Regions from separate parts of the Homo sapiens genome. Here regions 2, 3 and 4 are each linked to region 1. The links come from fine-mapping of genetic effects on gene expression. A gene starts in region 1. Each other region holds a variant in brackets. All regions are shown on one strand. Distances are from middle to middle.

Region 1 (8,038 bases):
AAAGTGCTAGGATTATAGTCATGAGCCACTGCACCGGGCCAACCCAGGCTGGTCTTGAACTCCTGACCTCAGGTGATCCAGCTGCCTAAGCCTCCCAAAGTGCTGGGATTACAGGTGTGAGCCACTGCACCTGGCTGAGTTTTAGCTTTACATAATTAAAAGAAGAAAACAGTTCCAAAATGAAAGAAAATACAGACAACCTAACAGCAAAGGCTCAGAAACAGAGCTCAAGACCTACAATATTGGGACAGGATTTCTAGAGATAAAGTGTCTTGCTGCTATCAAAATATATAACCAAGTAGCACCCAAAGGGTACTGGAATAGTTCTAGATACTCACCTAGATGAAACTGAGTTCTAGATGTAAGTATGGCACTAAATGCCGCAAAGTGATGAACCTTCATTTTTCCACCAGTGAAAGGTGCTGGAGCCAAATAACCTTTTAAGGGCCCTTGATGCCTTCCAATTAAAAATTTCTATCAGTGCTAAAAATTCTTACCTGCAGATTTGGGGCAACCATCTGAGAGACTCAAGGTCGCCTCCAAGGGGCTGCAAAAGCAGGTGCTGGAATGACAACTGGATAAACACTCACTGAACACCGAGTTAGAGGAATTGGAAAGGGATCCTGAAGCCCCATCACTCAGCTCATAAAACCCTACAAATAAAAACACCGTTGGAATTAACATCATGTCAAGAAATAATGCATATTCACGCTTAACAGGAAAATGAATAATCATTTAGGAAAAGGAGATTTTTTGTTTGTTTTTTGGCCAATTTTGATTCATTGGACTTTGGTGTCCTAATCTTATGGTCTTATTTCAAACAATCCTTAGGAAAAGGCAAAGAGCCCATAACTAGGGGTACATTTCAGAGTTACCCTCACCCTCAAATTGACCTTATTCCTTGACCCCGCCTTTGAACATGTCCAAGGAAAGAAACTTAGATCTGTCAAGCCTCATCTTTATCATGATTGTTTCAGAACAATAATAAGAGAAAAATCTAAGGAGCCCAAATGGTTTAAAAGAAAAAAAAAAAAAACTTTTGAAGTGGTCTCAGGAAGTTGAAGTGTGACTAATTTTCTAGCCCAGTTCTGACTTACTCAAGTTTCAAAGGAGGGCACCTCTTGCAGAAATTTGAATAGCTTTTATTTTTAAACTTGGGGGACTCCAATCACATTGATCTCATTACTAAAAATTTTGTTGTCTGAGTTTATTTCCCTCTTATTCCGATAAAACTGAATGGCAGACTTCTTTTTTGTTTATCCTCTCTGCACTGGAAACAAACTCCATTGCCATTTGCAGGTCTGGGAATGTTAACCACAAGGGGCTGAGATACAACTCAAGAGTGCAGAATTCTGTCCTTGTGCTCAATCACTCACCTGAGCTAGGCCGACTGTCTGTCTCCAGGTGCTCTTCAGATGTCTTTTCTACATCCAGTCTCAGGTCACTTATCTGCTTGTCAAGCTCTTGCAACTGATTCAACAAACCAGCATCTCTTCGCCTCAAACAGTTCTGATTAGGAAGAAACAAAGGAAACATGAACATACAGGGGTGACAAAAGAACCAGAAAGTCTACTCTAAGGATTCAAATTACCCATCTGAAGAGTTCACTAAACTTAGAAAACCAAAATTTTACTGGATGACCTGAAGTAACGAAAAACTTCGAGAATTCAAGAATATGTCCTATGTTTAATTCCACTTTCTCACATTTTGTGGTGATATAAAGTTTCTTCATAAAAACAAGACTTGTTTTTAGTTTCAACTAATATATACAAACTGACTTTTCATAGATAGGGACAAGAAAAATGGACTGAGACTTTAAATCATCTGGTGTATAACCAGTCTTTTAAAAAACAATACTTCACAGTAGACTCTTTAATTTGAAATGAGAGTAAGAGATTTCCTATAATACACTATAATCTTAGGTGAGATTTTCTGGCCAAATGTCTTGGCCTGCAGAGTTTTGTTTTCTATTAGTTGCTTTGTGGGGTTTAATCAGTCTTAGAGCCTTTGAAAGTGAGAAACTAATACTAATAGCCAGTGCCAAGTATAATGTGAGCTGGCAGAATCCAAAACCCTCATGGGAAGGCCCATCGAGATTTGAACGCCTCTGGGTTTCCAAAGGTGACAGATGGATTGTGCTAACTCACACTGCCACCTAGTGCTTCCTATTGCTGGAAAAACGGGAGAACTCAAAAAGCATCTGGTTCAAATCATGAATGCCAAGTCTACAAATGAAAATAGTACCATAAATACTGACTGGACTGGAATTCTCTTGACATACTGCTTTGCTCCCCTCAAGCGGACAATAGGAATGCGCCACTTACAATCTTGAGATTCATGCAGACAAAAAGGTGCAATTGCACAAAACAATAAAATGTAAAAGTCACCAGCCATAACCAGTGAGAACTGGCTCAAATGAATGTTACATAGGAATCTGGTCTGTGACCGAAGCAGCACAGTAAAATGCCAAAACAGAGATATTACACAAACCACAGTGTACATCCTTACAAAACACATGCATATGAATATCTACGCCTCTTGTCTTTTGACTTAAAAAGCTTGGAGACATAAATTGTATGTTTGTTTGCTACAATTAATTTCTTCAGGAAAAATGAACCTATCAAGTAAAAGCACTTTGGTGCTTAAAAACACACACACACACACAGAGAAAAGAAATGATCTGAAAAGAGATAATAGAAGAAAACACATGACAACTGCACAGCATCACCACTTTATTGTGGGAGGGCCACTACCTGGCATGTGTCTAGTTTAGATAGTATCACTTGGTCAGGTGAGGACGTTTGCTGTTTCCAAAACTACATTTTAAGGTCACTGAAAACAAAGCTGTCGCCATTATTCTGAGGCGGGGTCAAAAGCTGTTCATCAATACATTAAGCTACAAAGTTCTTTTTCTTCCCCATTAATGAAGACTGCATAGAAAGACTGAGACACTGACAGAAACCCAGTAAGATAAATGCTTACCGAGAGCAGGTTCTCTTTTCTCCCACCTCCACCACCAATCACAGCTGGCAGAACGTATAAAATATGAGAGGAGGGGACACAGTCTCCAGCCAAATTTCCATCATTTCCATCTAGTTTGAGCTGCCTTATACAAAGGGCTTCTATTTGAAATTAAGCACCAGCCTGGGTGAAAGCTGGCATGCTGGGGAGAGCTCTCGGAGAGGCACGGCTCCCTACAGGCGCTCCAGTGTAATCGTAAAACTCGGCCCTGGACAGTTAAGCACGCCACAAACCCCCTCCTTGGCTTTTGGCCCCTCTCGGCGGGAGGAGATAAAGTCAAGAAAACCTCCAAATAAAATGGTATTTTAAGTGGGAGTTTGCAAACCGCTGGGGAGAGGGCATATACTCATCTAACTAAGGAGACCGAACGTTAGAACTAGGCGACTCCAAGAATCCCGAAGGCAGAGGAGGAGGGAAGAGCGGCCACCCCCTTCCCGCAATCCGCGCGAGGTCGCCAGACACAAAGCGGGCACACGCCAGAAACGCGTGGGCGTCGGCAGCCCACACGCCGCGGGCACTCAGGAAGGGGATCAGGGAGGTATGGGGCGGTCGGGGGCGTCCCATAACAGCGAGCATCTCCCCAGCCAGAGTCAACCTCGCGCCCGCCCCAGGCCACCTGCCCGACCTCCAGCCCCTGGGCAGGAACAGCCGTGCTCCACCTTCGGGCACGACCTACCAATTGCTTTCTTAGCAGCAAGATGTTCTCCTCCAAGAACTTCTCCTCCAGGCGACTGCGCTGCGCCGCCTCCCCCAGTAGCTCCCCAGCGCGGGGCGCAGCGGCTCCCGCACCCCCGGCGCCGCGCAGGGCGCCCCTGACCAGCAGCTCTTGGCGCTGGCGCAGGTACTCCAGCTCCGCCAGCCCGGCCAGCGTGGCCTCCTGCCGCTCCCGGGTGCGCTGCCGCTCGGTGTCTGCCTCGCCCTTCTCCCGCCAGCGCCCCTCGGGCTCCGCCGTGCGCTGCTCGCCTCGGGCCGGCGCCGGAGGCTCCAGCTCCTTCGCCGTCCCGGCCGGACTCGGCTTCATGGCCCCCAGTCGGGCAGCGAGAGCCGTCACCGCAGCCGGGCCGCCCAGGCGGAGGAGCAGGGCGCTAGGGCTGCGGCCGCGGGTGGGCTCATGCCGCCCTGTGGCGGGGCGCGGCGCTGGCGGGGACGGTGGCTAGAAGCCCTCGAGTCCTGCGCGCGACCGCCGGCTGCTGCTGTCCCGGCCCGGGCAGCGCCGTCCGCTGTCGCCGCGCGTCCCTCGCCGCGGCCCGGCAGCTGATAACGCCCTGCCCGGCGCTACGTCACGCGCGGCGGCCCTGCAAACCCCCGCCTGGCGCCCGCCTCCCCGCGCCGGCCCCTCGGCTGCGACGCTTGCGCCCCCAGGCTTCCCCTCCTCTGTCAGGCGCGCCGCCCGGCCCCCAGAGCCGCCTCCTCCTCGCTCGGCCCTCCCCGCCCCTCCTCGCCCCTCCCCGCCTCCTCCCCCGCTCTCTTCGCGGGCCTCCTCGCCCCCTTTTCGGGTTTACTGCACCCGATTTTGCCCTCGCTCCTCATTGGCTCTTTCTCGTCGCCCAAAGCTCGGGGCGAGCGCCTGGAGCCCCAGCATCCTGTTACAGTCGGCCGCGCAGGCAGGGGCCGCGACGGGACGCGGCAGTTGGGCTCTCCGGAGAACTTTCTGAAACTCGACCAAGTTGCAGCACAGTCTTAACCCTTTCCCCACACGGCCACTCCTCATTTCCACTCACACCGAGTTAGGTTTCTTTCACTTCCCAAGCAAGGTATTGCAAGTGTATTCACAGACACTGTGGGGTTGGTTCCTTAACTCCACTTTGTAAAGGCAAGCAATACAGAGCACAATGCAGTGTTCTAAAACTTAAGTTTTGTTGTCGTTTTAATTTTTTAACGTCGGTCTTACGATGGACGGCATTTAAAATTAGGCAGGAGGATGTCGTTGTATAGCGAGAGGTTGCATCAATTCTTTTACAAGCCTACGATTTGAGTGCGCGCGCGTGCGCGCTTTGGTTTTTGTTTGAGCTTTTATTATTACTTAGTCTGCGTTTACAATAAGAGCTCTGACTCAGAAATCAGACTGTCTGGATTTGTATCCCAGTTTCACCCCTAAATAGCTGTGCGGGCAACTTACTCCCTTCTCTGTGTACGTTCCCCCCACTGTAAAAGGGAGCAGCTGCTATGGGAACCTGCTGTTGAAGAATTATAATAGTATGCAGCATATGCTATATATTGTGGGGGCTGTGCACTTACAACGTGGCTAGCACATAGATAGTAAAGGTGATATGAGTTGTAGCTTTTCTCCAGAGGGATTTATAAGTCTTCCCTCTTGAAGTATCATGTATTGGTCATCTCTGCTTGGAACACACTACTCCAGACCCCTATCCCACTGAAATTTCCGGTGGGATAGGGGTCTGAAAATTCCACTAGCTGGCTTATCTGTGGAAAAGTACCACATATATCTTTAAAAGCAGTACATCCAAGAACCTCGGAAATTCAATCCAGCAAGTCACAATTGCTGAAGTTCAGGCAAAGTGTTGTGTGAAAGAGTGCATCCTATATCATTATTTCAGACACTTGCACTTTTGCCCATCTGCTTACCCGTGCTAGGAATTCCTCTTCTTTCCTCCCCTCTCTGTGTGGTCTAACCACCCTTCCAACCTTTGAGCTCCAGTTAACTATATAAATATCTGATTCTGATCCCATGCTACCTGTATGGTTATTTATCTGGGTGTGCACACGCATATCTATCTACGTAGGTGTTTATGTGTATCTCTTCTCTCCATCTACATTATGAAAGCTTCCTGAAGGCAGGGACTGTTTTAATACCCTCTTAGTATCGCTGTATTCAGCACATTACCTTGCAAGCATTCACCTGACAATTGCTAGAGAGAGACTCGAGAATGTAGATTGGTTGTAAATTGTTTTTTCATTAGCATACTTTTAAACTTAATAGTACCCATTTAATCTCTACTACAAATAGAATTAAGTTGACATTTACCAAAAAACAAAAACAAAAGAACTCCCTTGCCACCTTTCACTTTCCTCCCCATTGCTGCCTCCCACAGACATGAAAGAACTACAAACTTGATTCATAATTAACAAGGTTGTATATTAGCTCTAAAAATGGAATTATGGTCAGGTGTTCATAAGCATACAAAATCGATTCTCTTCAGGTTATCTATTCTTTATGCCTGCTGTTGCCAAACACTACTTTATAATATAGGAACTAATTTTCCTCCCTAATTTTAGTAAGGCACGAAAGGATAGTGACTTATCCTGCTTGCCAAATGCCACTCACCCATGTCCTCTGTCATTGTTTCATTCTGCTCATTTCTAAACAAGCTTCTTGCTTTCCAGCTCTGAATTAGATTCCTCTGACTGGGTGGAGTCTATTATTGTGGCCTGTGTTATGTCACACATCGACAACTATATTTGTATAGTTGAGGGGGAAAAAAAGCTGAAACACATTTTTACACACTACTAATAAATCTTAAGTCAGGCAGACAAGCTCGCTATGTCTCCAAACCTCCCCACCCTCCCAACCCCCCTCCTCACCAAATGCCACTTTGAGCTGGCTCATTAGTCCAAAGCAAGCCATTTGCCGTAACAGCTTGTATATCTCCATGAAAAAGTGTTCTCAGCAAGTTTAAATATTAAAACTAATATATTCAGATGGTTCCGCCAATAAAATGGTCACGAATAGGAAAAAAGGTTATGCTTTCCAAAGTATCCATTACACATTAATAAATAATGCTGTTCATTCACATGCCAATTAAAACAAACTCAGGCTGTCAAATGAAGTTAGAAGCAAGGAGCTCAATGCTGTAATTGTTTTTCCAGGAAAACTCCCAATGTCATCAGATTAAGTGAGACAGGCTGGGTTGCCCCTATTCTCTTTTTAAGCTAGCAGCCAAATTTTCTCCCCTCCAGTCTAGTTGCCTGGATTTTCTTTCCTCTTTGATTCTTTGTTTTTGTTGCAGGTATTCCGGAAGCAGTTGAAAGTGATCGCCTACTGCTCCCTTCTGTTGCCAACGGAATCTCACTTCCCCCTACTGTTTTGATTTTTCTTTCCCTTTCTTTTTAAAGCAGGTGCTGGTACTTCTTCCTCCACTAGTGCTATTTCATTATCTCCTTTCTAATGTTGTTCAGCCCTAGTTGGTTCTTTTGCTTTCCCTGGACACGCCTGTCTGCTCAGAAAAACTGTTAATTGACACTCAGAAAGTGTACCACTAACGATGGGGTGGACCTGCTGCCTGGATGATCTGGAGAGTAAGATAAAGTTGCCAGCATGAAAAAGAGTCTTGGCTGAATATATTACAGTGGTGTTAACTTATGCTTGAAGATCTTTCCTGGGCAGAGCCAGAACATGTCCCTCATATCACACAGTCTGATGCTTTGTCCTTAGGCAGAACAGCTCCTAACAGCACCCCCACCAAAGTCTGAGCATCATTCTACAAATGCCTTGTCCAGCGGTGAACATTCTATTGCAGCCAAGCAAAGTAAGGGGCATCAGTTGCACATTTTGCCATCAAGCAAAGCAACAAAATGATGCCTTGCAGCTTTTATGGCCAAACAAACACAAATGATGTAATTGGGAAAAGCTGTCTCCGAATAGGAGGAAAAGAGTAAAGGGCAATCCTTTGAGCTGGAGAGATGACCACCATTCGAGGGTCTGGGATCAAAGCCCCAGCCAGACATCAAAGCCCATTTGAGTCTAATGCCAAAAAAGCCACAGTGAATTAAACTTCATATATAAACTAATTATAGCTTGACCCCACAATCAGGCTTCAGTGAGCACACAGGGGAAAGAAAGCAGACATTGAAACAAAAGATCAAGAAAAAAGAAGCGTGGTAGCAAAATGGGGCAACATCATGGCCCTGAAAATTTTAAACATCTTTTGAGGGCAGAAGGGAATAGGGGAATAGCAGAAGAAACAGCAAATGTTTGACAATGCTGGTCTTGTTTGAAAGGCTATGAAACAACTCCTTCCATCCTCTCTGGTGCACAACCAAACACTACCAAATAAAC
Region 2 (8,038 bases), 260 kb after region 1:
TGGCAACTTGCTTTTTCTACTTGTTTTTGAGATTTGAGCCATGTTGATACATTTAGCTGCAGTCCATTCATTTTAACTGCTTTATAGTATTGCATTTTGTTAACATGCCACAATTTATTTATCCATTCTCCTGTTAATGGCCACTTAAAATGGTGTATATTGCTAGGGGGAATTCAAGATGGTACAGTCAAACAATCCAGCAATCTTACTACTAGGTATTTAGTCCAGAGAACTGAAAACATTATGTTCACACAAAAAGCTATATATGAATATTTATGCTGGCTTTATCCACAATTATTAAATGTCTGGTCATAGATAAGTTTAATGAGATTTAATTTATGTTTCTATTTGAGAGCAAGTCTGGATAGGGAAGAAAGAGGAGAACTCCTGAAAGCAGTTACCACTTGGTGGGAAAGGTGCCCCATCAAAAGAACACTCCCAGAAAAATCTGAGTGTATTCAGAACTATCTTGTCAAAAGTTAGCTATCATAGTACATATAGGGCCAATCCTGGAGAAAATGACTACATCAAGGAAATGGTTAATTGAAAGAAAACACTGATGGGGGAATCCAAATTGTTAAAGAGGAAGTCAGACTGTCGCTGTTTGCTGATAAAATGATCGTATACTAGAAACCCTAAAAACTCTCCAGAAGCTCCTAGAATAAATGAATTCAGCAAAATTTCAGGATATAAAATTAATGTACACACATCAGTAGCTCTGCTATACACAAACAGCGACCAAGCTGAGAATCAAATCAAGAACTCAACCCATTTTACAATAGCTGCAAATAAAATAAAATAAAATACTTAGGAATAAACCTAACCAAGGAGGTGAAAGACCTCTATAAGGAAAACTACAAAACACTGCTGAAAGAAATCATAGACAACACAAATGGAAACACATCCCATGCTCTTAGATGGGTAGAATCAATATTGTGAAATTGACCATCCTGCCAAAGCAATCTACATATTCAATGCAATTCCCATAAAAATACCATCATTCTTTACAGAACTAGAAGAAACAATCCTAAAATTCATGTGGAACCAAAAAAGAGCTGGCATAGTCAAAGCAAGACTAAGCAAAAAGAACAAATCTGGAGGCATCACATTGCCTGACTTCAAAATGTACTATAAGGCCATGATCAACAAAACAGCATGGTACTGGTTTAAAAATAGGCACACAGACCAATGGAACAGAATAGAGAGCCTAGAAATCAGGCCAAACACAGCCAACTAATCTTCGACAAAGCAAACAAAAACATGAAGTGGGGATAGGACATCCCATTCAACAAATGGTGCTAGGATAATTCGCAAGCCGCATGTAGAAGAATGAAACTGGATCCTCATTGTTCACCTTATGCAAAAATCAACTCAAGGTGGATCAAAGACTTAAACCTAAGACCTGAGACCATAAAAATTCTGGAAGATAACATCGGAAAAACCCTTCTAGACAGTGCCTTACGCAAAGACTTCAAGACCAAGAGCTCAAAAGCAAATGCAACAAAAACAAACAGATGGTACTTACTAATAATTAAACTCAAAAGCTTCGGCACAGGAAAAGAAACAATCAGCAGAGTAAACAGACAATCCACAGAGTGGGAGAAAACCTTCTCAATCTATGCATTCAACAAAGGACTAATATCCGGAATCTACAAGGAAGTCAGACAAAATCAGCTAGAAAAAAACAAGTCCATTAAAAAGTGGGCTAAGGACATGAATAGACAGTTCTCAAAAGAAGATATACAAGTATCCCACAAACATGAAAAAAAAACTCAACATCACTGATTTTCAGGGAAATGCAAATCAAAACCACAATGTGATACCACCTCACTCCTGCAAGAATGGTCATAATCAAAAAATAAAAAAAAAAAAGATGTTGGCAAGGATGTGGTGAACAGGGAATACTTAAACGGCTGATGGGAATGTAAACTAGTACAACCACTATGAAAAACAGTGTGGAGATTCCTTAAAGAACTAAAAGTAGAACTATCATTTGATCCAGCAATCCCAGTACTGGGTATCTACTCAGAGGAAAAGAAGTCATTATATGAAAGATACTTGCACACGCATGTTTATGTGCATACTTGCACAATGCACAATTGCAAAAATATGGAACCAGCCCAAATGTCTGTCAGTCAATTAGTGGATAAACTGTGGTATATATATATACACCATGGAATACTACTCAGCCATAAAAATGAATGAAATAATGGCATTTGCAGCAACCTAGATGGAATTGGAGACTATTATTATTATTATTATTATTATTATCATTATTATTTTCCTTCTTGGAGACACAGTCTTGCTCTATTGCCCAGGCTTGAGTGTGGTGGTGTGATCTCGGCTCACTGGAACCTCCGCCTCCTGGGTTCAAGTGATTCTCTCCCCTGGGCCTCCCAGGTAGCTAGGATTACAGGTGTGCATCACCACACCCAGCTAATTTTTATTTTAGTAGAGACAGGGTTTCACCATGTTGGCCAGGCTGGTCTCAAACTCCTGACCTTAGGTGATCCACCTGCCTCACCCTCCCCAAGTGCTGGGATTACAGGCGTGCACCACCACACCAGGCCTGGAGACTTATTCTAAGTGAAGTAACTCAAGAATGGAAAACCAAACATTCTATGTTCTCACTCGTAAGTGGGAACTAAACTATGAGGATGCAAAGGCATAATATGATACATTGGACTTTGGGGACTTGGGGGAACGGGTGGGAGGGGGATGAAGGAAAAAAGACTACACAATGGGTACGGTGTACACTGCTCAGGTGATGGGTACACCAACATCTCAGAAATCACCACTAAAGAACTTATTCATATAACCAAAAACCACCTGTCCCCCAAAAACTTATTGGAAAAAAAAAATCACTGATGGGCTGCCCATGCACATTCATCCCTGGAAACCAAGAGAAAACCTGAGCAATTTGTTACCCTCCAACTGGGACCAAAAAAGTTCTTTAAGGATAATAAATATATGTTTTGTGTTATAGCAGAAGGGCAACTAGTATAGGGTTTACAGATAAAATACAGGATACGCAGTTAAATCTGAGGTTTTTGTGTGTGTTTGTTTTTGAAACGGAGTCTTGCTCTGTTGCCAGGCTGGAGTGCAGTGGCACGATCTCCGCTCACTGCAACCTCCTAGTTCAAGTGATTCTCCTGCCTCAGCCTCCCAAGTAGCTGGGATTACAGGCATGTGCCGCCATGCCCAACTAATTTTTGTATTTTTAGTAGAGACGGGGTTTCACCATGTTGGCCAGGATGGTCTCAAATCTCCTGACCTTGTGGTCTGCCCACCTTGGCCTCCCAAAGTGCTGGGATTAGCGGCGTGAGCTACCACGCTGGGCCTTTTGTTTTTTTTGAGATGGAGTCTTGCTGTATTGTCCAGGCTGGAGTGCAGTGGCACAATCTTAGCTCACTGCAACCTCCGCATCCCAGGTTCAAGCAATTCTCCTGCCTCAGCCTCTTAAGTAACTGGGAATACAGGCATGCACCACCACATCCCACTAATTTTCGTATTTTCTGTAGAGATGAGGTTTCACCACGTTGGCCAGGCTGGTCTTGAACTGCTGACCTCAGGTGATCCACCCACCTCAGCCTCCCAAAGTGCTGGGATTACAGGCATGAGCCACCGTGCACAGCCTAAGTGTGTTTTAATAAATAACCATTTTACATGGGACATCCTTATATGAGGAAATTATCTGTTGTCTGAAATTCACATTTAACTGGGTATCCTGTATTTTTATTTGCTCACTCTGGCAACCCTAAAATGATGGGATTCTTGAATCAGATTGTCTTGTTTAATGTAATTTAGCCTCGAGAAGAAATCCAATTACTTGTACAGAGTAATCATTTATTGTATCTATGTGGAAGTTCCTTAAGCTTTTCACAATAGAACTTTTCAACATGAATTCTGCATGACACAGATTACAAAGTGAAGATAGCTTCATAATTATGTGAAGTACAAATACCAAAATTATAAGCACTGCCCTTATTCTGTTTAAAGAGATACATAATGGATCTATATGAATAAAAGAAGTTTTTTTTGTGCTTGTCAACATGGAAAACATTTGATTTTGTAATAAAATTTAAAGAACTAAAAAAATTTCTACTCTGTGAAAACATTAAGCATGTATTTGTTACAAATTCCTCATTAGAGCAAACTCCATTCTAAGAGTCAACCAACCTTCACTAATGATGGATGTCATCACTTATTGTACTCTTCCTTTAATGTGATAAAAATCTGTGTGTAACCACATGAAAGTAATGGGAAAAGGAAGAACAAACAAGGAGAGAAGGAAAAATAGCTCATCAATTTAGGAATATTTTCAGATCAGACTGTTAAACAAATCTGCTTTAACACTTTTCAAATGATTTTTTTTTAATTACTTTGTGAAAAGAACCTTGGCTGGCACAATGGCTCACGCCTGTAATCCCAGCACTCTAGAAGGCC[G/A]AGGCAGGTGGATCGCTTGAGCCCAGGAATTTGAAGACTAGCCTGGGGAACATGGTGAAACCCTGTCTCTACTAAAAATATAAAAAAATTAACCAGGCAAAGTGATGAACACCTGTAGTTCCAGCTACTTGGAAGGCTGAGGTGGGAGAATCACCTGAGCCAGGGAAATAGAGGCTGCAATGAGCCATGATTGCACCCCTGCACTCAAGCCTGGGTGACAGTAGTCAAACGTAAGACCCTGTCTCAAAATAATAATAATAATAACCCTAAAGACCTCTTTTAAATGTCTGGCTTTAGGCCAGGCGCCGTGGCTCACACCTGTAATCCCAGCACTTGGGTGGCCAAGGCGGGTGGATCACTTGAGGTCAAGAGTTTGAAACCAGCCTGGCCAATGTGGTGAAACCCTGTCTCTACTAAAAAACAAAACAAACAAACAAATGTCTGGCTTTAAGAACTCAATCATCTAGTAGGATAGAAACACACATGCACAAGTAAACATCAGGTAAATTGTCAAGTAAAATAATACAGACTGAAAAGCTATCAGAGCATAAAAGAGGGCACTATTCTGGTTGTAGTGAGAAGTCAGCAAAAGCTTCATGGAAAAGTGGCTCTTGAGACACCTCTGGACAAGCAGGGTTGAGAGTGGTAGGGAACTGCTCAAACCTTGACCACCTGTCCTTTTTGCTCCTGTTCCCCTACCACTCTCAGTCCTACTTGACTCCTATCCTGCATCAGGTCTACTCTTGCCCTGGCTCATTACCTGGACCATTTCTATCAATCTCCCCTCCCCCATGTCCCTGGAACACTATACTCTCCATATCTCTCCTTCTACTTCCCCAGCCAATTCATAATCTTCACTGGAGTTCAGTTTTCTTGTTGCTTTCTCTGCAAAGCCTTCCCATACCACCCCTGCCTTCAAACTAGTGGGCTCTCTATCATTATCTCATTGCACACCATAACTTCATATGCTTATTATACCTGCACTTAAGAATTACATGAGTTTGGATAAGCAGAGACTGTAATAAAAAAATAATAATTACATGAGTTAACTGTTTACATCTACCATATTATTACACCGTGATTATACATTCCATGAAGAGAAGGACTTTATTCTGTCTTGTTCACCGTTGTGGCTCCTGGGCCTTAAGCTTATGCCTGGCACATAGAAGATACTAAATAAATCATCAATGAATGAATTCTGTTAATTGGTTTTATATATGGTTGAATATAGCTTTGAATGCTTTCACACTCTTGATAGCTATGTTAAATTACAGGGCTTAAGGCTGGGCGCGGTGGCTCACGCCTGTAATCCCAGCACTTTGGGAGGCTGAGGCGGGCGGATCACAAGGTCAGGAGATTGAGAACATCCTGGCTAACACGGTGAAACCCCGTCTCTACTAAAAATACAAAAAATTAGCCGGGCGTGGTGGTGGGTGCCTGTAGTCCCAGCTACTCAGGAGGCTGAAGCAGGAAAATGGCATGAACCCGGGAGGCGGAGCTTGCAATGAGTGGAGATCGCGCCACTACATTCCAGCCTGGGCAACAGAGCAAGACTCCGTCAAAAAAAAAAAAAAAAAAAAAAAAAAAAAAAAAAAAAAAAAAATTACAGGGCTTATAAGAAAGGTATGTAAGCAAATTAACTGGGCAATCCACATAGATTTTCATAACTTAAAGCAATTTCATAGAAGGCATAGTATGTAGTAGTCTTTTAATATGCTAAGTGCAACCATCTTTCTTAGTGAAAGAGAGGAAAACTAGAAATTTAACACAAAATAACAAACAATAAAAGCACACAATGTCCAGCTGGGCACAATGACTCACACCTATAATCCTTGCACTTTGGGAGGCCGAGGCAGAAGGATCGCTTGAGCCCAGGAGTTCAAGACCAGCCTGGGCAACACAGCAAGACCCTGTCTCTACAAAAAATTTAAAAATTAGCCAGGTGTGGTGGCACATGCCTGTAGTCCCAGCTACTCAAGAGGCTGAGGTGGGAGGATGGCTTGAGCCCACGAGGTCAAGGCTGAAGTGAGCTGTGTTCACACCACTACACTCCAGCCTAGGTGACAGAGCAAGACCCTGTTTCAAAAATTGAAATACATAAAAGCACACAATGCAATACTAAAACAGAAAGCACCATAATCTTTTAAATAACTTGATTTTACAGATGGCAACTTGCATTATATTAGAGTGTCTTTATATTTTTACTTTTTTTTTTTTTTTTTTTTTTTTTAGACAGAGTCTTGCTCTGTCATCAGGTTGAAGTGCAGTGGTGTGATCTGGGCTCACTGCAACCTCTGTCTCCCGGGTTCAAGTGATTCTCCTGCCTCAGCCTCCTGAGTAGCTGGGACTATAAGCACGTGCCACCACGCCCAGCTAATTTTTGTATTTTTAGCAGAGATGGGGTTTCACCATATTGGTCAGGATGGTCTCAATCTCTTAACCTTGTGATCCGCCTGCCTCTGCCTCCCAAGATGCTGGGATTACAGGTATGAGCCACCGCACCCAGCCTATATTTTTACTTTCTTAGTTACATTTAAGAGGTATCTATTCAAAGTTTACCTAAACTCAAAATATGCTCAATATTTGAAATGTCATACTTAGTCAATATTCACTTAATTTCATAATCCTTTCCAGCCTCCAAATGAAAGGATTTTAACAGTGTGTATCTATTCAATGAATACACAGTTTTGCTCTTTGTAGCAACATCCCAATACTTCATGACCAAATTTGTATCAATTAGAAGGGACAGTACTCAAGCTGATAACTTATTTATCTCACATTTATTGAATTGCTACAGAAGGAAATCATTAAAATATTTAATGTATAAATCTAAGGTTGCCTCCTAGGTCCAAATGGATTTAAATGACACTTTTTTTTTCATTTTTATAATTAGTAGAAATATTTTATTGTAAAGGCTGAATATACTAAAATGCTTGGTTTTGTGAAATCTGATTTTCCAACTGTAAGTTACAAGCACTTAGGAAAAAAGCAATCACTTAAATGAAAACTAAAAGTATAAAGCCTATGTTTAAAACATGGCCTTTATTAATACTGCCCACTGAGCTCCATTTTTATTTTACATTGAGATACTTCTGCTTTGCAAAGAAAAGACAGAAAAGTGCATTTTACAAGAGTACTTTTTTTGTTTTTAATTCTCTGAGAAAATGGAATCTGAATCACAAGTTCACAATGTAGTAAAATGAAATTAAGAAACAATGATTTCAGTAATGCTATGCCATCACTAGTGTTTAGCTCTGACTTTTTCTTGTAAATCAGATCCTGATATACAGTCTAGAGCATCTAGGTTATTATTCTACAGCATATTAAACACAGAAAAGGAGGTTTAAAAAAAAAACCCCTTTCAATGTACAAACATGAATTTAAAAACTGCTTTTATAAAATCACCTTTTTACATAATGTATATGCAAAACTGCTTTAAATACATGATTTTGGAAGAATTATTTACAAAATCTATCAGTCTGTGGAACAATTCACAGACAAAGCATACATAGTTGCTTTACTTAGTTGTTGCATCTCAACTTTGGGAGATATAAATTCATTCGGCAGTATAGCAAACATAAAAACTGTGACA
Region 3 (8,038 bases), 85 kb before region 1:
ATGATCTAAGCTCCTGGGTCCTTGGGAGATAGATATGGAATGCAAGGGGATCACCTCATGGCAAGGCCAAAACGAAGCCACAACCATTTTAAAAGCAAAATGAGGTGACTATTACTTTCGAAAAATAAAATTGAAAGAGTGTTATGCTAAAAAAGACTCTAATATTTCACAGTTATATATGTCTTCCTGCCTTCATCTCTCTTTCTGTTAGTTTTTGTGACTGCAGCCGAGACCTCTGCCTCTGAACAATGGAATACCATTTTGCCTCTGCATCTTGTTCCAGACTCCAAGTTCTCTGTACACAGGGGCTATGTCATCTGCTTTATTTGCCATAGTGCCTTCTAAATTGGCAGGTACCAAAAATGCACATGATACATACCAATAGATTGCTTACTTTTTTCTTCATCTGTATTGGTTTGTCTTCTCCTCATAACTGAATATCCTCAACTATTTCACTAGATCAAAGTGTGATGAACCAAACAGATCACCTGTGTGGTTAATATTATGAACCTTAAAAGCCACTTGTGCCAGGCATGGTGGCTCACGCCTGTAATCCCAGCACTTTGGAAGGCTAAGGCAGAAGGATTACTTGAGCTCAGGAGTTCAAGACCAGCCTGGGCAACATGGTGGGACCCTGTCTCTGAAAACAATGTTTTAATCATAAAAAAATGAAAAATAAATTTAAGTAGCCACTTGTGAACACTATGTGAATGTTATATTGTGTTATAATCAAAAGTCACCGAAACTTCTTGTTTTTAAGAAAGATTTCTGATGCTATTGAGGTTTCAATATAGGATTTGCTTTAGGTAAAAGAAATATTACGGGAGAGAATGCAGAGAATGTAAACTCAACTGTGAAATCACCATGTTGACTATTGCAAGACTCTCAAAATGCTCTCCCTTTCCTTCATGAAGGAAAGTTTATAGAGAGTCATGGTAGACAGAATGGTGGAGACTTTTCTTTTTAAGATACAACCAGGGTTTAATTTGGGAGAGAGGAAACCAGATTTCAAAAGACAGACCCTGTTGGAAAGTCACCAATTGGCCACAGACAAAAACGTCTGTGAGGGATTGATTTTTCTCACTCCAGCTGGGACTTTTGTTGTTTTTCTTTTTACATTTTCTAAGTGTACTTCTCCTGAGATAAAATCCCAAATTCTACTCCTGGATAATCGGGAAAAGAGATTTCTTTGATCTTCAGAGGTGTTTTGACTTTCAAGAAGAAAAAAAGATGGGAAAACTTCAAAATATTTAAATCTCATACATATGTAGCAAATCCCTTTTTAAACATTATTCCAAGGAACAGCAGCTAACAAAAAATATCTTACAAGAGAAAATTTATTAGAAGTAAAATAAAAAATACTGACCTATAAGACTTTGAATATATTATATGGAAAAACTTTTTTAAAAGGAACATCTTAAGATGGGTTTATTCTCAACATGAGTGTGGAATCAATCACTGGGCACATTACTGATTTCATGCCATCATTCTTTTTTGCCTTAACTCACAAACAGTCAAAACACTCTTCATTTGTCAAAGTTTTAAAAATATATTTATCTTCTGAAAGGAAAGCCCACACACAAAAGTACAAAGGTCTGTGCATTATCAAAAGAACAGTGGCATCTTTATTGCCATGGTCTTGATGTTTAATAACTTACATCCAATCTGCATCCTCAGATCCTCTTGCATTAAAAAAATTCCAAGAAACCTCATCATAAAGACTACTACTTCATGGTTCCCTCTATAAAACAGAGCAGCACTTTGTAGTATTTTAGTACTTTTCATGCAATAATAGAAAAACTCTTTTATGATTCATTTGTTTTCCTCCAGATACCCATGGAGGAAAGTCAACTGTATATTCATTTTACTGCAACTCTGGTCCAGGAAATCATAAAACCAGCAGAAAAGAATGAAACTGTGAGGTCCCTGAGTTTAGGTCCTACTTTCTTGAGTTACTAAATTTTTTTTTTAAATGCTCATTGAATCAACAGACAATGGATAAAGAAAATGTGATATATGTACACAATGGAATAGTATTTGGCCATAAAAAGGATGAAATCCTGTTATTAACAGCAACATGGATGGAACTGGAGGTTCCATTACGTTAAGTGAAATAAGCCAGGTACAGAAAGACAAATATTACATGTTCTCACTTATATGTGGTAGCTAAAACAGTTGATCTCTGCTAGATCAAGAATAGGATGATACATAACCAGAGACTGGAAATGAAAGAGAGGGTGAGTGGAAGCCAAGGAATGAAGAGAGGTTGGTTAATGAGTAACTATACTAAGAATATTTTGTATATTTCAAAGAAACTAAAAGAGAGAACTTGAAATGATACCAACACATAAAAATGGTAAATACTCAAGTTGATGGATACCCCAAATACCCTGGCTCAATCATTATACATTCTATGCATGTAACAAACACTCACAGGTGCCCCATAAGTATGTAAAATATTATGCATCAATTTTAAAAGTTCTCTAAAAAAAAGTAAATCTAAGCAAGCAACTTCAAAAAATGTTGATTGAAAACTTAAAATTTCACCTCCATTTTGACATTATTAGTGGTGAAATATTTGTCATCTCCTTCATCACCATCCCATCTCCAGCCAAAGGACACTCCACACCCCTCACTCCTACCAAGACACTGAAAGTATAAAATATGGAACTCTGGAGGTCAGAAAACAGGAACACTTAGACACTGCTGGTGGGAATGTAAATTAGTTTAGTCACTGTGGAAAGCAGTTTGGAGATTTCTCAACGAACTTAAAACAGAACTACCATTTGACCCAACAATCTCATTACTGGATATATACCCAAAGAAATATAAATCATTCTCTCATAAAGACAAATGCACACGTATGTTTGTGACAGCACTATTTACAATAGCAAAGACACGGAATCAACCTAGATGCTCACCAAAGGTGGACTTGATAAAGAAATTGTGGTACATATACACCATGGATGGCTATGGAGGCATAAAAAAGAATGAAAGCATGTCCTTTGCAACAACATGGGTGCAGCTGAAGGCCATTATCCTAAGTGAACTAACACAGAAACAGAAAACCAAATATTACATGTTCTCACTTATAAGTGGGAGCTCAACACTGAGTACACGTGGACACAAAGAAGGCAACAAAAGACACTGGGGCCTGTTTGAGGGTGAAGCGTGGGAGGAGGATGAGGATAAAAAACTACCTATCAGGTAGTATGCTTACTACCTGGGTGACAAAATAATTTGTACACCAAACCCTAGTGACATGCAATTTACCCATGTAACAAAAGTGCACATGTACCCCCCTGAACCTAAAATAAAAGTTTGAAGGAAAAAAATAAAATAAAATATGGAACTCGGGATGTAAAGCATGAGTGGCTTAGTGCAAGCTGAAAGGCATCAAGCAGCCTAACTGCCCAGGGCCACACACAAATGGGTTCTCCAAGTGGGATCGAGGACAAGATGTTCGGCCAGGCATGGTGGTTCACATCTGTAATCCCAGCACTTTGGGAGGCTGAGGCAGGCGGATCACCTGAGATCAGGAGTTCAAGATCAGCCTGGCCAACATGGTGAAACTCCATCTCTACTAAAAGAACAAAAATTAGCCAGGCGTGGTTGTGCATGCCTGTAATCCCAGCTACTCAGGAGGCTGGGGCAAGAGAATCGCTTGAACCTGGGAGGCAGAGATTGCAGTGAGCCAAGATCGCACCACTGCACTCCAGCCTGGGCAAGAGAGTGAGACTCCATCTTGAAAAAAAATAAATAAATAAAATAAAAATGACAAGATGTTACTCCAACCAAATACCCTGATAGGTGTTTTTTCTTAATATATGGAGCATTCTTGGAAATAAATTTTAAAAAGAGAAGAGGAGAAGATAGGAGAGAAAGGGGAGGGAGGGGAGAGAGGAGAGATAAAGGGAACCCTTCCCCAGATATTATCACATTTTTAGCAACCATTTAGCGGATGGAACAACAACAAATTTTCATCATGGCTAATTCTTAAAATATCATGCTCAACTCCACTGTGATTTAGAGCAAAATTCTTATGTCTAGAAATTAATCCTTTTCTACTTTAACTTCTCTTTTTGTAAGCTTGCCAAGAATTATTCCATAATTTGCCAAGCAAAATAATTCTATAGCCTATCTAGAAGAGACTAAAAGGATGAAAAGAGAAACAAATTATATGTTTCTGTAAAGAAATATACATCTTATACTTTTATTTTCTGGGTACAATTTACGAACAGCTGGTATCTCTGAGGATGAGCCATTTCGTGTTCGCAATATAAATATTTGTTGATCCTGGTGGGTATTTTTGAAGATCATATTAGTAAAATACACACAAAAAAATCCTTGAGTTACATTTGTTTTCCAGAAAACAAACCCATATATCTCCACTTCCTCCTTGCTGACCTTTCTTCCATCTGTTTCAAAATGGGTCAGGAAGGGACACCGAGCCCAATAG[C/T]AAACAGGATGTTTAAAACAGGGGTTGAAAAACAGTCACATCTGAGTCCAGGGATTCCTGGGGCATGATAGGGCAAGCCACTGCATTTATTTGGCCTCAATTTCTCCCTCTAAAAATGGAGACTAAAAACCCCACACGGTTTCCTTGATTTGAAGCAAGAATAAATTAAACTTAATAAATTGTAGAAGATTGGGGGACAGAGGACACAGAGTGAAAAAGAAAAAATTGCAATGTGGACCATAAGCATGCTGTCGGGAGGAAGCTAGTGGTCTTCAGGCCACATTTTGAGAAACATTGTCAACACTGACTATTTTTTCAGCTTATTCAACCTCTTTATATTTGTCTTTATCATTGCTTCCTTAAAAACAAAGTTTGTCAGTAAAAATGTCCCACACATGCAAAAAGCAAGAAAATGTTCCTACCCACCTTCTAAACACGTCAAATAAACATTTTGGATTTTCTGTGCCATGGGGCTATTTCACCCTCATACTCAACAGATATGAGCACCAATGATGTGCCAGGCTATGTGCTACGCAATGGAGATAAAGGTGAAAAAGCAGACTCAGGGACCAACAGTCTCATGGGAAAAGATAAGCAAGTAAATGGGTAATTAAAACACAATGGGATAAATATACTGTATTTAAATATTCAATTTCCATATACTAACTGTTTAGCAGAGCCAAAACCAGAGTTAAGCCAGGGTTCCATCTGTTTTGAGATGGTAGAAATTAAAACAATGTCGCTATCCCTGCTGAGACCATGACTCCTTTTCCTAGTGGCAGCCAAGAATATATAATCCACTCAGTGTCTGATTTCTCAGTTTAGGAATTCCAATCAAAAAAAGCCATGGCACAGGGCAATTGCCATGCGACCAAGTAAAAGCCTAAAAGAATATCTGAGTGTCTCCTGCCCTGGGTGTCAGGGGTATAGAAATCCTCTTCTCTGTATAGTTCCTTTTCTCATGCAATAGGTCTTTCCTACACTTGTTCTTGGAGCCTGATACCTACCAAGGATGAGGTATTCTGTAAAGTAAACTAAGGAGATGGAAACTCTTTTAATATAATAACAATGGGAAGTGCTAGCAGAAAACTAGTATTTGCAATCCAATTACTTAAATCTTCTACTCTAAGATTACCTTCAAAGAAAATGTTTTCTATCCCTTCTCCGCATTTAGGACCCAAAGCCCCTACCTTACTCCAACTCCCATCCCTAGCAAAACATAGGATGACAGACAACCCTCCCCTAAGGCTAGACACAAAATTCGACAGGAAGAGGGTAGGAGAAAAGGAAGAATAAAGTAGAAGAGCAGAGCGCTGAAGATCTGTAAGGCAAAGAAAAAAAAAGGATGAGAGTCCAAAAGTCTTCATTTTCCTTGAGATTGACCACATGATGTTTCCCAAGTATAATATTTAGCACTAAAACCACAGAGGCATGGGCAGAGGTCAGAGACAAATTGAATTTTCCAGTTTCCACAACCATGAAGACTTGGAAGGAGACAGAATGTAGCACTGGGATTAGGCATTTGAAATAGTGGATTAAAAGTGTTTCTAGATTCCATGTATGTGCTTGACTAGCTATTATGGGGTCTTTATTATTGACTATTGTACCTCTCCCTTCCAGAATAAGGAGCATTCATTGATATTTTAGCACAGAAATCAAATAGTCTTTGGCCTCTTCTTTAATCCAAGGGAATTTTGAAATAACATACTTCCTCTGCATGTGCTATTCCAGCATCCACCATAAGATCTGTTGAGGATACATTCAAACTGATATTTTCCAAATAAGAAAATTCTGAGCTTAGTATGAAGACTTCATCAAACAGAGCTCCTGGAGGTGTCTGGAGTAAATCCATCTTTAGAAGAGGGCCATTAGGGCTTTGTTTAGCATGATCACTAACTTGCAAACTGACCTATTATATCAATCCGCAGTATCCAGGTTGCCACCTTAGGAAACTATATTGCCTTGGTTTCACTCTCAAATTCTAATCAAGGACTCTCCTTGTGGAAGCTGTGAAAATGTCTATGCCCATGACAAATATCTATGGAAATCATGACTAAGACAGGTCAAGTCTAGGTTTGTCCGACTCCTGCCTCCGACTCCTGCCTCCATATTCCTTACAAATATAAACAGGAAGCTAACATCTTCCCTGGTCCTCACTGAGGGGTTTGGGTAAGAACCTCCAATCTCCCTCCTTCCCAAGTCAGTCCTTCCTTTTTTTTTTTTTTTTTTTTTTTTTTTTTTTTTTTTTGAGATGGAGTCTCGCTCTTTCGTCCAGGCTGGAGTGCAGTGGTGCTATCTTGGCTCACTGCAAGCTCCACCTCCTGGGTTCACGCCATTCTCCTGCCTCAGCCTCCCGAGTAGCTGGGACTACAGGCGCCTGCCACCATGCCTGGCTAATTTTCTATGTTTTTAGTAGAGACGGGGTTTCACTGTGTTAGCCAGGTTGGTCTCGATCTCCTGACCTCGTGATCCACCCGCCTCGGCCTCCCAAAGTACTGGGATTACAGGCGTGAGCCACCGCGCCCGGCCCAGTCCTTCCTTTTCTTTGTATCTGAATAGAAGTAAAGACCCGGCGGTAATCGCATCCCTCTCCATTTAGTATGGAAACCACCTCTCTCCTTGCCCTATTTCCTTCCATTTTTGCCTTCTCCATTTTTCCTCTTTCTCCCCAAGGCATACAAATTGTATGCCAGATACATAATATGCTCAATCATTAGTATTGAAGGATGACCCTGGTAGTTGATGTCCATGCCTCCCTTAGACAAGAAAGCCCTACATTCTCCACCTTACCCAAACACCAGGTATTAGTCAACAGTGGGGCAAGAACAAAATATAAGGATATAAAAGGTGCCTGGAGCAGAGGGAAGAAAAACAGTTAAAGCTGGAATTCTTTGGTTTTCAAGTAATAAAAACAACCCAATCCCACCTGATATAAGCAAACCAGGGGGAAAAAAAAGGTATTTTATGGGCTCATAAAACTGAAAAGTCTAGGCTGGGCATGGTGGCTCACACCTGTAATCCCAGCACTTTGGGAGGCCAAGGCGGGTGGATCACGAGGTCAGGAGTTCAAGACGAGCCTGGCCAAGATGGTGAAATCCTGTCTCTACTAAAAATACAAAACTTAGCCAGGCACGGTGGCAGGCACCTGTAATCCCAGCTACTTGGGAAGCTGAGGCAGGAGAATCGCTTGAACCTGGGCAGCAGAGGTTGCAGTGAGCTGAGATCATGCCACTGCACTCCAGCCTGGGCAACAGAGTGACACTCCATTAAAAAAAAAAAAAAAAAACTGAAAAGTCCGTGTTCAATCTTGCCTATTGAAGGAGCTTGGATCAGTCACAATGTCTCTGGGCTCCTCCTTCTAGCAGTTCTTCCTCTAGATAAGCTCCAATCCATGACTTCACAAAAGTATTTCTAGAAAATTCAGGCTTATATCTTCAGAAACCTCAGTCCAACAAAAAGAAAATCTGCTTCCCAATACCTCAAACACCAATGCCAAAATTGAATTTCTTTTGGCTCTCATTGGCCCACTTTCAGTCACATGTCCATGGCTGAAACATGGCTGTGGCCAAGAGAATGGAC
Region 4 (8,038 bases), 39 kb after region 1:
AAAAAAAAAAGAATTGCAAACTTTGAAAAAGAAAATTGTTGCTATTCGAACCCACAGTTGCATTTTAACCTAATTCTCAACAGACTATGACTTTGAGAAAGACAAGAGAAATTACTGGTGCCAATCCTAATGTACATGTTTTTGACTTCATAGACTGAATAAGACTCAGCCTCCTAAACTTGCCCAAAGGATCCCTAGGAAATATTTTTGCTAGGTATTTTTTTTTGATGATTATAAATAATTTGAGAGACTATATTAAAACAAGCATGGAGGTTATGTTTGTTAAGACACGGGGTTGCAAAAATCAACTCAAGTTAGTGAATATAGGGGAGGAAAATGTATTGTAAAGACAGTGGAGTCTCACAGAACTAAAGGGCAAAAATCCATGAGACCCAGGAGGGGCAAAGACCAGGGAGTCTTCTCCCTTCCTCTGTCTCATCATGGTGTCTCTCTGAGAAGTGGCTTCATTCTTCTTGCAAGAAGGGCTTCTTATTTTTACTACTCATTCCTCATGGTGAATTGAAAATGGTTGTCCATAGCTTCCAAATTCACATTTTAAAGTACCAGTCACTCCAATTGCTGGCTTGTGCTCTCACTGTGTCCCCCTCTCCCTCTCTGCAAAAGCATTGTCTCACCCAATTCCATATGTGCAGTTCAGGGATGCTCACTGGTCCCGCTTGAATCAGGTGTCTATGGCCAGCGGGGTAGAGTCACACAGCTGCTGAGAAGGAAGCCAGCAGTCTCCAAGAAGTGGGATGTAGCAAACAACAGGAGGAGGATGCCTTCATTCAATTAGTATTTACTGAACACCTCTGTGCCTGGCACTCTTCTAAGTTCTGGGGAGATAGTGATGAATAAAAAGACAGAGCTCCTCCTCTCCAGAAGCTTGTATTCCATTGGCAGGGGTCGGGGGTGTGGAATAAGCAAATAATTAATAAGTAACAATTGTATCAGATGGTTATAAATGCAGTAAACAATGGTAGTGGTGTGCTGGTATAAATGTCTAACAACCAGTTTTCTGAGAGGCATTGGAAAATTTCTGTGGTGTAAATAGTTCTACCACGATTAATTTCAAGCTACCAATGCAATGTCATTGGATAGGGAGTTGGGAGAGTGCAGTAGGGCCTGACTGTAGAGTGTTTCCACCACACAGATATCATAGACATTAATAATCTCAAGAGCATAAGAGAAATATGTAGTAAAAGACTAGGAAGTGATGAGTTTTGAGAATTTATTAACTTCATTTTTAATATAATTAATTTAATTGGAAGTTAAATCATTCAATTCCTGATGGTGGCTTTATTTAATAACTGGCTCATACAATTCTTGAAAATTTAACTTCCTGTGATCCAGTGTGAGCTAGATCCAAGACAGCACTCCTGGTAAAGAAAGCAAAGCAGGTTGAGCGTTCACGTTCCAGTTATCTAGTGCTGTGTAACAAACAACCTCAAGACCTAGTTATTCGAAATAAGAACTGTTCTATGATATCTCACAATTTTATGGGCCAGATATTCCAGCAGGCTTCAGTTGGGTGGTCCTTCTACTCAGTGGCATCAACTGGCAGATGGACCTATCTTGAGAGTCCAAAGTGGGTTTGCTCACATGTCTGATGCCTTGGTGGGAATCATCAGAAGGTAGGGCTCAGCCGGAACTGTTGACTGGAGCACCTACACTTGGTCACTTCAGCATGGTGGTCTCAAGACATCAAATTCAGGGCTCCTGGAGAAACTGTTCCAAGAGTCAGGAAGTGGGAGCTGCCAATCTCTTAAGACCTCAACCTGAAAACTAGTCCAGCACCACTGCTGCTATATTCCATTGCTCAAACCACTGAACCTGCCTAGATTTAAGTGGACATAGACCTCCCTCTCAACAGGAAGAGTATTAAAGAATCTGTGGCCATCTTTAACGTACCACAGATAGAGAATGGTAATGGTGAAGGAGCTGTGCTTTTTGAAATACAGTGGTTGAGGAAGACTTTTCCACTAAGGTCATTTTTTTTTCTTGAAAACTAAAGGCAATGAGAAGTGAGTCATCTGAACAAATCAAGGGTTTGTGCAGTTTTTTTAAGTCCAGTTCTTGCCAGGCAATCCAGATTAAACCCTCAGACACCATTCTGTTATGCCATAAGGATATCACAACAGAAACGTTTGAGAAGCACCAATTAGACCAACTTCATTCCCCAGGTAAAGGAAACTGAAGCCCAAAGAACTCAAGTGCCTATTCCCAGGCACCAAGTAAGGCCATGCTAGCATCATGCAGGACATGGCTTGAGCTTGGCTCTTCTACCCAGATCTCCTACTTAAAAGTCCAGTGCTTTTTCTATAGCTCCATATTTTTTGTTATTTTTGCAAAATTCTTTGTAGAATCAGTATTATTTCATGATTTAGCATTTAAAACTTTTCCATCTTAAACTACACATATTTTATATCATCAATAAGAATGTAAATTCCTTGAGGACAGAGAGCTTACTTTACACTTCTTCAAGGTTGCTGTATACAATTGTATAGTTCCTGCACTGCACAAGATATCCAGCCAGGCTGGGGAGGCAATGGGATGGGAACCTGCACTTGGCCTGCCAGGCTATGTGTTGTGGGGTAGGGCTGCATTGTCTCAGGGGAATGGGCATCTTTTTCCATTGCTTACAAAGGAGAGGCTGGGGGTAACTATACCTCTCTTACAAGTTAGACATTGTGCAATACAGTGCTGGACACGCAGAAAAGTGTCCTGGTATAGGGGAGGGGAAGTGGGGCATTCTGATTAATAGCCTGCTTTCAGATTCCTCCAAAAGTATCTCTTATGTGCATGCTCCAATTATCTATTGCTGTGTAACAAACCACCTCAAACTTACATAAAACAGCCATCTTATTGTGCTCAAAGATTCTGTGGGTCAGGAATTTGGATGTTACAGCAGGGATGAACTGTCTCCGTTCCACAATGTCTGGACCCCTGCTAAAAACTCAGTTGGGGCTGGAACTATCTGGAGGCTTCTTCCCTTATATATCTGGTGTCAAGGCTAAAATGACTGAAAGGCCAGATTCTGCTGAGACTGTTGACAGGAGCACCTGCATTTGGCCCTCCACGTGATGTAGGTTTCCCACAGCATGGCAGCTGGTCCTATAACAGAGCATCTCAGGAGGGAATGTCTGAAAAGCAAACCTTCCAAGAGAGCCAGGAGAAAGCTGCATGGCTTTTTCTGGCCTAACCTTGGAAGTCACTCCACATCACCTCCACAACATTTTATTGGCTGCAGGTGAGTCACTGAGGCCAGCTTAGATTCAAGGGGAGAGAAATAAGACTGCATCTCGATGGGAGAGGAGAGGTCATATTGCAGATGAGCATGTGGGATGAGAGATATTGTTGTGGCCATCTTTGGAAAATACAACAAGGCACGTGTCTTCAATAATCCTATACCACAAAAGAGATGAAGTAATAATTGAGGGATTGACCCCCAAACAGCCCCACAGTGCTAGGATGAAGAGCCTCTAGGGCAGAGTTCAGATGTACTGCTTTCTGAGGCCAGCGCCTGAGTCTCCGTAAGCCCCTGTCTTTTAAGTCTGTGGTCAGGGAATAAGCTCAGCACGGGCGAAGTGCGCAGCAGAAAAAGGCACCAGATGCTTTTTACCCTTAGGCTTCGTGGTTATGCCACCAAGAAACTCTGCAGACGAGCCTGATGACTGGAGGGTTTGCCTCCCTTTTAATCTGTGGGCCACCAACTAACTGTTAAAGTTGCCAGGGCTCACCGTAGAGCCAGATGTTCTTCACAGATGTGCAAAGGAAGCAGTTTCCTTATTACATCTCTTTAAGTTGTTTGATGCTATAAGATGCCTTTTTTAGTCTAATGGCGGTGCTGGGGGGCAGGGTTTGTACACCCCTGGCTAAGCAACTGTGGCCATTTCCTCCATTTCAGTGCACATAAAATAACCAGCCATGATCTCCAACCCCTTTTCTTCTTAACTAATTGGGTGGCCTTCTGCAGATGGGCTATGAAAACCAAAGGGAAGTTTCAAATTGAATATGTACATATATATTTTGTTATTGTTAAGTAATGTAACTTCTGAAATGTATTCCGCCTACCCTGCTCCATTTCACTATTCCTGTCATTAAGGTAAGACTTACTTACTTGGCATAAGAAAGCAAGTAGGAGAATAACTCACCATTTGTAATTGCAAGTACATTATATTAACCTCTTTATACGTATTAATCAGGTATCAACTCTCCCTGAACTTTATACCTGAAGGATTTCAGGAAAAGTAGAGTAGAGTTGCCATTTAGCTACACAATATCACCAAATA[C/G]CACATATTCAGTCTACCCCTTCCTCTCCTTTCCTCTGATCTGGTCTGTCTGCAGTTGTGCTGTCTGTGAAATGAGTTGTCACCACATCAAACCAAGGAGAAGTGGGAGGAAGCTGCACACCCACAAAATAAGTGTTCCTGGTGAAAAAAAGATTTCTTTCCTCTACAGAGAGAGAGCTATCTAACTGCATATAAACAAACTCCTTGTGTTATTCAACTTAAACATAACATTCCCCATGTGTTAGAGATGTATTTAGCTACAGTGCCCACTAACATCTGCTAAAATGAGAAAGTCCTCTCACCCATTCCCATTTCTCCTCCCACCCTCGCCTCCCACCTCCAAAATTACAATGTGTAGTCAAGGTTACAAAGACCTAAGCCTGAAATCAGGTATGTTTAGAAGAAGAAATACTTATGAAAGCACGTGGAACTATAGTCAAATATTTCTAAGGAACTACAGCTTTTCGACTAGCATTTGTTGGGGACCCAGCCTGTTCCAAGCACTGTGCTGAGGCAGTTCTACGGGACAGAGCTGACTCAGTCCACAACACAACTCTACAGTGTGCCCATGTGCAGGCCTTAGGGGCCATAAGAAATAAAACATGAACTAACTAGGTTTTGTGACCCTGACACAAGAACTACTTTCCAGGAAACAATGTGGCCCCTAAGTGCCATGCATCCCCACACTCTCCCTCTGTACCTCCAGCCTTAGAAGATGCAAAAGGCAACAACCCAGGGCTCTGGGCTTTTCTGACCTGGTGAGTCCCTTCTCTGTATAAGCTGGTGAACCCACTGAACTCATCTCCACTGAATCCATTAGAAACAAACAGCCACCAGGCAGCCAGATCTGCTTGCATCTGCAACCATGTGTGATGGTTAATTTTACGTCAGCTTGGCTAGGCTGTGGCACCCAGTCAAACACCAGTCTAGATGTTGTTGTGAAGCCATTTTTATTTTTTATTTTATTTTATTTTTATTCTTTCTTTATTTATTTTTTTGAGACAGAATCTCGCTTTGTCGCCCAGGCTTGAGTGCAGTGGCACGATCTCAGCTCACTGCAAGCTCCGCCTCCCAGGTTCACGCCATTCTCCTGCCTCAGCCTCCCGAGTAGCTGGGAGTACAGGCACCCACCACCTTGCCCGGCTAATTTTGTATTTTTAGTAGAGTTGGGGTTTCACCATGTTAGATGGTCTCGATCTCCTGACCTCATGATCCGCCCGCCTTGGCCTCCCAAAGTGCTGGGATTACAGGTGTGAGCCACCACACCCGGCCTGTGAAGCCATTTTTAAATATGATTAGCATGTAAATCTGCAGACTGAGTTAAGCAGATTACCCTCCATAATGTGGGCCTCATCCAATCTGTTGAATGCTTTAAGAGAAAAGACTGAGGTCCCCCGAGGGAGAAGGATTCTGTCTCCTGACTAACTTCAGATTTGAGCTGCAAACATCAGTTCGTCCCTGGGTCTCCAGCCTGCCAGCCTGTGCTGCAGATTTTGGACTTGTTAGCCAATAACATGAGCCAATTCCTTAAAATCTCTCTCTCTCTCTCGATATAGACATAGATATAGATATATAGATATATAGATCTCTCTCCATATGTGTGTGTATATGTATAGAGAAAGAGATAAATACATAGCAAAGATGTACGTATGTAGATACATATATGTGTGTATATATATATATATATATAAAGAGGGAGAGACATCTTTGCTATGTTGTATATCCATATAGAAGATAGATAGGTAGATAGATAGACAGATACAACATAGCAAAGATGTCTATAAACTTTGTACTGCTTATTTGCTGATTCAATCATGTGGTGGGGACTGCAGTTTGCCTGCTCAATATCCACTCCTTTCTTCTTTCTTGGCATCAGAATCCTAACCTTATCTGGGGTGGTAATGTTCTAGCTAAAAGACTGTATTTCCCAGCCTGCCTTATAGCCAAGAATGGCCATGTGGCTCAGCTCTGTCCAGTGACACGTGAGTGTACATTGTTACATGGGATTGTTATTCACATAACAGATGGATTCAATAGCTTCACAGGTGACAGTCCAATGACCTAACCAAGGAGAATTAAACAAGGGAATTTTATTACTTAGAACAAGTAAGGAGGATACCGGGGATAGTCCCACAAAGCAGCGCCTTCCCAAACACTGGTGAAAATAGGGCTTTTATTGGACTGGTTAGCTGAGTTTTTGTATGTAGAGGTAGAGTAAAGACAACACAGTAACTGATCATGCTTCTACACACATCATTCATATAGAAAATGGTGATAAGCTCCTCCCTGGGCAGGGTTTTTGGTACGGTAATGAGGAGACTTCACTAAAGTTCATCTCCAACTCAGGCATCTCTAGATCCAACCAGTTTTTGTTTTTTTGGGGCTGAGCTTCTTCCTGGAACTTCTTGAAACAACAAGAACTCAAGATGCAACAGTTACAAGCAGGTACCTTTTCACAGTACGTACCCAAAAAACTGAGGACCTTGGGTTACAAGATTTGTAAGAAAGCCACTTGAACGGAAGACAGGATCTAGCACACACTCTTTCTGTCCTTTCTCCTTCTTCAGTTTCCTGTCAAGAACGCGGAAGTGGTGGCCCAGTAGCCATCCTGGGCCACAGAAACCAGGGCCTAAAACTGGTGGAGCAGAAAAATACCATCTCTGGACAGCCTACTTCCCTTTCCCTAGGGAAAAAAAAATCCTAGAGCTTCACAGTGGTGTGCATGCACCTGTAGTCCCAGCTACTCCAGAGGTTGAAGCAGGAGGGTCGCTGGAGCCCAGGAGTTCAAGAGCAGCCTGGACAACAAAAATGAGACTGCTTCTCTAAAAACTAAACCAAAACAAACAAACAAAAAACCCCTAAACCTCTATCTTGTATAAGTCATTGTATTTTTCAGTTTCTGTAAATTACAACTGACCATGTTCCTGATTCAGACAATACACAAGAGCTAAAGTAATTTTCTTTCTTTTTTTTCTTTTTAGAGATGTGTTCTCACTATATTGCCCAAGCTGGTCTGGAACTCCTGACCTCCAGTGATTCTTCTGTCTCAGCCTCCTAAATAGCTGGAACTACAGGCTCAGGCCACCACACCCCCAAAGAAAGCCAAAGTAACTCAAGCCAAATCCAAGTTTTCATTCCCACCAATCCTCAAACCCAGACCAGCACGTGTGGTCTGGTCTCGCTTGCCCTATGTATTATTATTCTTCCCATTTTACAGAAGATGAAACTGAGGTAAAAATAAGTTAGTTAAGTAATTTGTCCAAGATCACAGTAAGTAAATGAGCTGAGACTTCAACTCAGATCTACTCCGCTGCAGAGCCTGCATCTGAGCCACAGTGTCTCTCAAACGTAAAGCTAAGAATAATGGATGGAAGTTTCAGGGTGCAGATTTCAGTTCGATATAGGGAAGACCCTTCTAAAGATAGGGGCGGTCTAATAATGGCATCACCTGCATTATGAGGTAGTGAATATCCTGTCACTTGAAGTGTTTAATTAAAGACTAGACAGCCATCTATGAGGGATACTTGTTTATAGTCTATTTACTGTCTATTTCAATCAATCCAAGTCTATAGATATACTTTGACTGAACTAATTCTCCACACTAGAAATTTTGAAAAAAGAAAGAAAAAGGTTAAATGTCCTACTACTGGTAATTGTTTTTTTTTTTTTTTTTTTTTTGAGATGGAGTTTCGTTTTTGTTGTCCGGGCTGGAGTGCAATGGCTCGATCTTGGCTCAACCTCCGCCT

Alleles and levels. Positions count from the first base shown, and alleles are read on the strand shown. Sizes are in standard deviations (SD) of each study's normalised expression. Not every link is listed here.
For the expression in transverse colon of the gene that starts at base 4,283 in region 1, allele T in region 3 goes with a higher level than allele C (small effect, 0.33 SD a copy in GTEx).

The links. PIP is the estimated chance that this variant, and not a neighbour inherited with it, causes the effect.
Region 2: its variant is fine-mapped to the expression of DACT1 in whole blood (TOPMed, PIP above 0.99).
Region 3: its variant is fine-mapped to the expression of DACT1 in transverse colon (GTEx, PIP above 0.99).
Region 4: its variant is fine-mapped to the expression of DACT1 in whole blood (TOPMed, PIP 0.98).

What each region holds. Positions count from the first base shown.
Region 1 is chr14:58,634,207-58,642,244 of GRCh38, reverse strand. DACT1 (dishevelled binding antagonist of beta catenin 1) reads right to left here and starts at 4,283. Exons shown (of 4, transcript NM_001079520.2): 1 at 3,698-4,283; 2 at 1,377-1,509; 3 at 498-653. The coding sequence starts at 4,042. RefSeq lists a silencer at 3,783-4,492.
Region 2 is chr14:58,373,165-58,381,202 of GRCh38, reverse strand. The region is part of intron 1 of TOMM20L-DT (TOMM20L divergent transcript); the gene reads left to right. ARID4A (AT-rich interaction domain 4A) reads right to left here. Exons shown (of 24, transcript NM_002892.4): 24 at 7,327-8,038. Among named protein-coding and RNA genes, the nearest start is that of TOMM20L-DT, 19 kb to the left of the region's middle. The variant G/A (reference allele first, on the strand shown) is at 4,447.
Region 3 is chr14:58,719,065-58,727,102 of GRCh38, reverse strand. No RefSeq gene overlaps it. Among named protein-coding and RNA genes, the nearest start is that of DACT1, 85 kb to the right of the region's middle. The variant C/T (reference allele first, on the strand shown) is at 4,460.
Region 4 is chr14:58,594,972-58,603,009 of GRCh38, reverse strand. No RefSeq gene overlaps it. Among named protein-coding and RNA genes, the nearest start is that of DACT1, 39 kb to the left of the region's middle. The variant C/G (reference allele first, on the strand shown) is at 4,293.